Regions from separate parts of the Homo sapiens genome. Here region 1 is linked to region 2. Evidence: fine-mapped expression QTL. A gene starts in region 2. The other region holds a variant in brackets. All regions are shown on one strand. Distances are from middle to middle.

What was found. PIP is the estimated chance that this variant, and not a neighbour inherited with it, causes the effect. A credible set is the group of variants that fine-mapping cannot tell apart.
Region 1: its variant is the best candidate, but not a certain one, in a credible set for the expression of DNAJC27 in whole blood (INTERVAL, PIP 0.66).

Annotation. Positions count from the first base shown.
Region 1 is chr2:25,067,063-25,071,062 of GRCh38, reverse strand. All of the region lies in intron 1 of EFR3B (EFR3 homolog B), which reads right to left. Among named protein-coding and RNA genes, the nearest start is that of EFR3B, 27 kb to the right of the region's middle. RefSeq lists a silencer at 646-788. The variant T/C (reference allele first, on the strand shown) is at 1,561.
Region 2 is chr2:24,969,392-24,973,911 of GRCh38, reverse strand. DNAJC27 (DnaJ heat shock protein family (Hsp40) member C27) reads left to right here and starts at 1,957. Exons shown (of 7, transcript NM_016544.3): 1 at 1,957-2,094. The coding sequence starts at 2,008. DNAJC27-AS1 (DNAJC27 antisense RNA 1) reads right to left here and starts at 1,800. Exons shown (of 3, transcript NR_034113.1): 1 at 1,680-1,800. RefSeq lists enhancers at 908-1,425, 1,637-1,716, 1,426-1,944, 1,927-2,036, 2,297-2,406 and 2 more and a silencer at 2,167-2,246.

The sequences.
Region 1 (4,000 bases), 97 kb before region 2:
CATGAACCCGGGAGGCGGAGCTTGCAGTGAGCCCAGATCGCACCAGTGCACTCCAGTCTGGGCGACAGAGCGAGACTCCGTCTCAAAAAAGAAAAGAAAAGAAAAGAGCTTGAGCCTGACCTGTGGTGTATTAAGCAACAATGAATTTTCTCCTTTGTTTTCATTTCCATTAACGTGCGGATCTCTGCATTAATCCGAATGGATATCTTCACCCTCCCAATGTTGTGTGCCTTCACAGTTTGTCAGATGAGCAGTTTAGTAGAGTCTGTCCCTCTGAGCCTCTGCGCCCTCCATCTCTTCCCACTGCCACCCCGCCTCTCTCCCTTCCTCAGCTCTTCATTGACAGTGGCCCATTCCTGCCAAATATCTCCCACTCCTGGCTGCTGGAGGGACGTTTCAAATAGAAAGGATGTCACCTGCTGTTCACTGCTTTCCTCCTTCATTTTCTTATCAGCCATCACTAGCTCCTCCAGATTTGAATTTTAAAATCATCAGAAGCCAGTAGGATGCGGTGGCTCACGCCTGTAATCCTAGCACTTTGGGAGGCTGAGGCAGGTGGATCACTTGAGACCAGGAGTTCGAGACCAGCCTGGCCAACATGGTGAAACCCCCATCTCTACTAAAAATGTAAATATTAGCCGGGCGTGGTGGCATGCACCTGTAATCCCAGCTACTCAGGAGATTGAGGTGGGAGAATTGCTTGAACCCGGGAGGCGGAGGTTGCAGTGAGCCAAGATTGCGCCACTGCAGTCCAGCCTGGGAGAAAGAGCAAGACTCTGTCTCAAAGTAAATAAATAAATAAAATCATCAGAAGCCCCCGGTAATCACAGGGAAAATATTGTGTAATGAGGTAGGAGGTGGGACTCGACTCTGGGGGTGGGGCTTGAACACTGGACCAAATTGAGGACTAGCTAAAACAAGGCAGAAGCAGCTTTTCATAAGCCACACCCACCAGTGTGCCATGTCAGTTTACCATTGCCATGGCAATAGCCAGGAGTTACTGTCCTTTCGACAGCAAGGACCTGATGAATAATCAATGACCTGATGAATCAAAAGTTACAACCCTGGCTGGGTGTGGGGGCTCAGGCCTGTAATCCCAGCACTTTGGGAGGCCGAGGCAGGCAGATCACGAGGTCAGGAGATTGAGACCATCCTGGCTAACACGGTGAAACCCCGTCTCTACTGAAAATACAAAAAAATTAGCCAGGCGTGGTGGCGCATGCCTGTAGTCCCAGCTACTTGGGAGGCTGAGGCAGGAGAATGTCCTGAACCCGGGAGGCAGAGGTTGCAGTGAGCCAAGATCGTGCCATTGCACTCCAGCCTGGGCAACAGAGCAAGACTCCGTCTCAAAAACAAAAAGTTACTACCCCTTCCCTAGAGATTTCTGCACATACTGCCCCTTAATCTGCATATAATTAAAAGTGGTATAAACACGACTGCAAAACTGCCCTGAGCTGCTACTCTCAGACAGATTGTCTACATGGTAGCCCTGCCCTGCAGGAGCAGTCATGGAGCTGGAACACCGCTGGAGCTGTAATGCTGCCACTTCAATAAGGCTGT[T/C]TTCTTCTACTCTATCACTAGCTTGCCCTTGAATTCTTTCCTGGGCAAAGCCAAGAACCGTCACAGACTAAGCCTCACTTTGGGGGTCGCCTAGCCTACATTAGTATGGAATCTTTAATAATCTTTATTTTAGCATGGTTTGAAATCAGGAAGAGGGGAAAAAAGCATCAGACAAGATACATCGTGGCCACCAGAGACAAGCGATGGCTTCTCATCTCGCTTTAATTGACCCTGGCTTCGCTGCTGTGCCCAAGGCCTGGCCTCCTTTGCTTACTTAGAAAGTGACTCCAGTACAGGCCAGGCGCAATGGCTCATGCCTGTAATCCCAACACTTTGGGAGGCCGAGGTGGGCGGATCACCTGAGGTCAGGAGTTCAAGACCAGCCTGGCCAACATGGTGAAACCCCATCTCTACTAAAAATACAAAAATTAGCTGGGTGTGGTGGTGAGGCTGAGGCAGGAGAATCACTTGAATCCGGGAGGCGGAGGTTGCAGTGAGCCAAGATCGCGCCACTGCATTCCAGCCTGGGTGACAGAGTGAGACTCTGTCTCAGAAAAAAAAAAAAAAAAAAAGATGCCGGGCGCGGTGGCTCACGCCTGTAATCCCAGCACTTTGGGAGGCCAAGGTGGGCGGACCACAAGGTCAGGAGATAGAGACCATCCTGGCTAACACGGTGAAACCCCATCGCTACTAAAAACACAAAAAATTAGCTGGGCGTGGTGACAGGCACCTGTAGTTCCAGCTACTCTGGAGGCTAAGGCAGAAGAATGGCATGAACCCGGGAGGTGGAGCTTGCAGTGAGCCGAGATCGCGCCACTGTACTCCAGCCTGGGGGACAGAGCGAGAATCTGTCTCAAAAAAAAAAAAAACATAAAAAAAACAAAAGTGACTCCAGCACAGATCATACGGTGAATCTTTGTTTTATTCATTGCTCAACACCTAATATTCAAATGCTAGCAAACACACAGGCCCTTAAACCCAGTTATCTTATGCTTGTGCCCCAGGATGAGCATAATGAATGAGGCTTGAGAAATCTAACTTAGAAAATGAGGCGTGGAGCCTTCCCGATCTTCCTCAAGCCTGCATTGACTCAGCTTGCAGATGCCTGCTGTCTATGTCTGTCAGCTTCAAATTGTTATTAATGTCTCAGTATTTTTAGGGCTCATCACAGTCTGTTTGATAAAATCTAAGTTTCAGCTCCTCAGTGTGGGGAGTGGAAACAGAGATCAGAGTAGGACACGACTGTCGGCTTCCTCAAAAAAACTAAATAAATAATGGCTCCCCAGCAGCATCTCAGACTTATGGCTCATACACACATCAGCCCTGACCTTACACACCCAGTCCAGGAGAACCAGGGGTGAGAGCACCACAGGAGAAGCATGGATGCTTTTCCTCCCCTTGGCTCAGAAAGCCCATGTCTGGGTATCTGCACCTGCTCGTATGCACAGGGAAGCAGGTAAGAGATGGATCTGGTGCCTTTGTTTGGAAACAGCCTACAATGCTCATCCATAGGGGACTGGAAAGGCCAGGTGCGGTGGCTCACACCTGTAATCCCAGCACTTTGGGGGCCAAGGTGGGTGGATCACTTAAGCCCAGGAGTTTGAGACCAGCCTGAGCAATATGGCGAGATCCCCATCTCTATTTTTTTTTCCAAAAGAAAAAAAAGTTTTAACATTAAAAAAGAAAATAGAGGGCTGGCTAAATAAGGCAGGGAACAGCCATGCAATGCACACTAGGCAGCAGCTGAATTGAATGAAGCAGAGCTCTGAGCACCGCCCCAGACAGCTCTCAAACATACTGTTAATTCAAAAGGAGGCTGTGGCCAGGCAGATCACGAGGTCAGGAGATCGAGACCACCCTGGTTAACACGGTGAACCCCGTCTCTACTAAAAATAAAAAAATTAGCCAGGCGGGGTGGCAGGCGCCTGTAGTCCCAGCTACTTGGGAGGCTCAGGCAGGAGAATTGCTTGAACCCAGGAGGCGGAGGTTGCAGTGAGCCGAGATCATGCCACTGCACTCCAGCCTGGGCAACAGAGTGAGACTCTATCTCAAAAACAAAAAACAAAAAAAAAAAAACAAAAACTAAAAAGGAGGCTGTAGAACACCTATGATATGATTCCATTTGTGTGCACCCTCACAGGCCAAACCAATGGGGTGTGTATGTAAATATGTGCGTGAAATATGCTGTCATGAACAAAGAAAGATCTGTAAAGATACACAGCACAGTGTTAACGCTGGTCACCGAGTAGAGCTGGGTGGGGGTGCCTAGGGATGGAGAGGGTGAGGAGCGACTTAAACTGCACTACCCAATATGGTAGCCACTAGTCACTTGTGGCTACTTAAATTAAATAAAATTTAAAAATTCAGTTCCTCCAGCAAACTAGCCACATTTTATGTGTTCACTAGCCACATGTGGCTAATGGCTACCACACTGGACAGT
Region 2 (4,520 bases):
CTAACTCGTGCTGATTTTTATTTTTTTATATTCAAAGAGTGGGGGAAAAAAAACAACTTTCTTGCTCTTTCGATTCCAAACTAATTTAATACACACAGTAGAAAATGTAGCTATATACAATAAAGTGTCAAAAGCATCAATATGGGCCGGACGCTGTGGCTCATGCCTGTAATCCCAACACTTTGGGAGGCAAAGGCAGGAGGGTCACCTGAGGTCAGGAGTTCGAGACCAGCCTGGCCAATATGGTGAAACCCCGTCTCTACTAAAAATACAAAAATTATCTGCGTATACCGGTGGGTGCCTGTAATCCCAGCTACTCGGGTGGCTGAGGCAGGTGAATTGCTTGAACCCGGGACACAGGGGTTGCAGTGAGCAGAGATTGTGCCACTGCACTCTAGCCTGGGCAACAAGAGGGAAACTCTGTCTCAAAAACAAAAACAAAAACAAAAAAAACCCCATCAATATGAAAAAAATAGTAATCAATTTAAATCTGTGGCATGTTTTACTGCTTAGTCTCAACAGCACCATACTTAATCAATCATAACAGCTGAAGATTTGACATTTTATAATTATTCTTCCACAATACCAGTTACCCTATTACAGGGCCAAAGGTGAACTGTCGAAGAAATTACATGTTTAGTAATTTGATTTATTAAATCATACTGAGAAGTTAGCATGTGGATTCTTTTAAGCTTTAAAACTATCCAAATTCTAACCAGGACTTATATTTCATATTTGTAAATAATTTTAGAAGCTTCAGTGAATTAAGTTATATTATTTGATTATCAAAACAATCCAGAATAAACTTGTCTTAAAAAAAACTTAATGTTTAAAAAACACATTTTAAAATTAAAATGTGGAAAATCTGACTTTACTGTGAAATGTTGAGCCTTTGCTCATTGCCTTCCTGTAATGCACTTCCCTTAAGATGTTTAAAGTTAGGTGAGAAAAGAAGCAATGCTACTTTTGTCTTTGTAATATACAGGGAAATTGGCAGCCATTTTTTTTCAGGGCACTATAAATAATCATTGTCAAGTTCTATTTATCTTCTGTAACTGAAGATATTCACTGAAAAAAAATTACCGTTCCTGTCAGACTGACTTTTATTCAAGCACTGTCACATTGTCAGCTAAAGGGAAGGGGAGAGCAGACGTCGAGGTCACGTTCGAAGCGAACAGCGGGGAGCTGAGGAAACTGACGTCCACAGCTCCAGCCTGGCTTAGCGTTAACACCTGCAGTAGACCAAGCCTTTCTCCCACAGAGGAGTCAACAAATCCATCAGAGATCTGTAATAGGAGGGCCAAGACTAAACACTCTTGCCTTGACTCCAAATAGACAACTCCATTTAAAATAAAAAACAATAGGAACCAGATTCAGAATCGCTTCACGCCTTGCCCAAGGCCCTCTTCCAGAACCAGGGTTCCGACCTCCCCACTTTCCTGGCTTTGGGGTCTGCCTCTCGGGGATCTCGAGCAAGGGGAACAAAATATTGGAGGGGGAAGAGGAGCAGCAGCCCGGCCCATGGAACCGAAAAAGAATCCAGAAAAAAAAAAAAACACTCCCAAACGGACGAGACACTACCAGACCCGCCCTGAAGAGCCAATACATTTCCACCACTCGGCTGCGAAAGCAACAAACGCCTCCCGTCCGGGCGTCCCTGAAAACAAGGACGCGCTCACCTCGAAGGGTAAACCCAGCCGCCCCCCAACGCCGCCTTCCCGTCAGGGGACGAGGCCTTAGAAACTCGGTAACTGCAGTCGCGTCTCCAGGGCCTGCAGATGACGTCAGCAGCCCCGCGCTAGCATCGCGAGACTCCCGTCTCCCTCCCCCGGCTCCCCACGCTCCCAACCGCCCGCGCCTGCTGCCAGGCAGCGGCGGGGATGGCGAGCAGCGGAGGCGAGGCGGTGACGAGAGCAGCGGCTCCGCCATTGGACGAGGAGGCCTGAGGGACGGGCCAGCGGTGCACAAGAAGAGACCGAGGCGGGTGGCCCCGAGAGAGCCAGGGCCATGGAGGCCAACATGCCGAAGCGGAAGGAGCCCGGCAGGTCTCTCCGCATCAAAGTCATCTCCATGGGCAACGCCGAAGTGGGGAAAGTGAGTACAGCGAGCCGGGAGGGGCGGGCCCCAGCGTGGCGGGGCGACGTGTCCATTGGCTGGAAGGGCGGCCACTCAACAGCCTGGGGCCCGGCCTCCTCTCCGCCCCCGAGCAGGCCCGGGTCTCAGCCGAGGGGTGCGGCTCCGCGAACGAAACTCCCCGACCTTTTTGACCTTTCCGTTGCCCCCTCGTCCTCCGACGTCACTCTTCCGGAGATGGTGTCTGGGGTGGCCTCTAAGCCTTGAATGTACCCCCAAAAGAGTAAGAAGGCCTGGGTCCCCATGAGGGGCCGTCGGCCTAGATACCTTGCCCGCGTTCTAGGGGGCCGTCCGGGACCGGGAGATGGAGGATGAAAGTTTAGTTCCCCCAGCCGGGCCTGGGAGCCGGCGGAACGTTATGGGGTGCGTGTGAGAATTTGGGGTTCGCGAAATGGTGCCCGGCAGCCCAGATTCTGCATTCCCGTCACGAGAGAGCGTAACTGACGTTGACGTGTTTCACAGGGGAGGTGCAAGGGATGGCCGGGGTCCGCGCTGTTTTGTTTTGCGTTGTGTTTTATTTTTGGTGGTGTCCCCATATCTGTTAGTTCCACCGCCCTTCTCTCTGCCCCATCTGTGGTTCATCAGCTATAAACTCTCCTTTAGTACGTGGGGAGGGAAGGCCAGAGGTAACCTGAGGCCTTTTCCCTTATGAATTCCAAGACGGCCTCCTCTTCACTCAAATTCTTTCCTTTTGGGCAAGTGGAATCTGTTGGTTAAGAACTTCCCAAGGTCATCAAATCAGTGACCGAGGAAAGATTAGAACCTAAGTCTTCACATTCCCACTGCGGTGCTCTTTCCGTCGTTGTATGCGTTCAAAATCAACTCCGAAAGAGCTGTTAAGGCAGTGCCTAGTCCAGTGCCTGGCACCCAGGAGATGCTCAGTAAATGTTTACTTAGTGTTTTTTATTTCTGTGTAGCATGATCCCGTACTACTTTTGTGTGTATGTGCTAGCATAGTATTCACTGAAAGTCAACATTTTTTTGAACGTCAGCTGTGTACGAGGTGTTTTTTTTTTTCTAGGGACTGGGCACGCTAGCTCAGGCCTGTAATACATCAGCACTTTGGGAGGACGAGGCGGGCGGATCACTTGAGGTCAGGAGTTCAAGACCAGCATAGTGAAATCCTGTCTCTACTAAAAATGCAAAATTAGCCAGGCATGGTGGTGCACGCCTTTAATCCCAGCTACTTGGGAGGCCGAGGCGGGAGAATCGCTTAAGCCGGGGAGGCAGAGGCTGCAGTGAGCCGAGATCACGCCATTGCACTCCAGCCTGGGCGGCAGAGTGAGACGCCGTCTCAAAAAAAAAAAAAAAAAAAAAAGTAATTTTACTGTGCCTAATGATACAACATTAGAAGCAGCTCAGAATGCCCAGTGTCACCACATCTACTTAACATTTTTCTAGTTTTATTAGCCAGTGCAATTAGACAAGAGTAAGAGAATATAAAAATATTAGAAAAGAGAAGGTAAAATTAACATTATTTGCTAATAATACGATTGTTTACCTGGAAACCCAAAGAGAAATAACTGAAAAACTATTAGAAACATTATAAAAATTCAATAAAGCAAAATTATTACCCACAAATTAATAACTTTATTGTGTCCAAATTATATTCAGTTGGAATGTGTAATTGAAAAACAATTTTAATTTACAGTTACAACAAAAATAAAGTTCCTAGGTTTAAACTTAACATGAAATAGGCAGCACCTATATGAAGACAAGTTTCAAACTCTACAAAGGGAGATAAATTACTTAGGCAAATGGAAAGATATACTTTTTCCTTACGTGGGATTACACAATATTGTACAGATGTGAATTACTCAACCTACAAATGAAATTCAATTCCAGTGAAAACATCAATAAGGGTTTTTTTTTCCCAGAACATAATACAAGACTACTAAAGTCTTCATGAAAAATTAATGTGAAAACAACAAAGAAAATTGTGGGGAAAAAAAAGAAATGAAAGAAGACCAACTGTATCAGCCATTTAAAAATATTTTTCAGGCCGGGCGCAGTGGCTCACGCCTGTAATTCTAGCACTTTGGGAGGCAGAGGCAGGTGGATTGCCTGAGCTCAGGAGTTCGAGACCAGCCTGGGCAACATGGTGAAACCCCATCTCTACTAAAATACAAAAAATTAGCCAGGCATGGTGGCGCACGCTTGTAGTCCCAGCTACTCAGGAAGCTGAGGCAGGAGAATTGCCTTGAACCTGGGAGGTGGAGGTTGCAGTAAGCCCAGATTGTGCCACTGCACTCCAGCCTAGGCGACAGAGTGAGACTCTAAAAAGAAAAAAAAAATTTTTTTTCACTGTGATGATGGTTTTTCAACGTTCACAGTTTCCACCAGAAAGATTTTCCTTAGTGTTCGGTAAACCTTCCTTGGATGTCTAT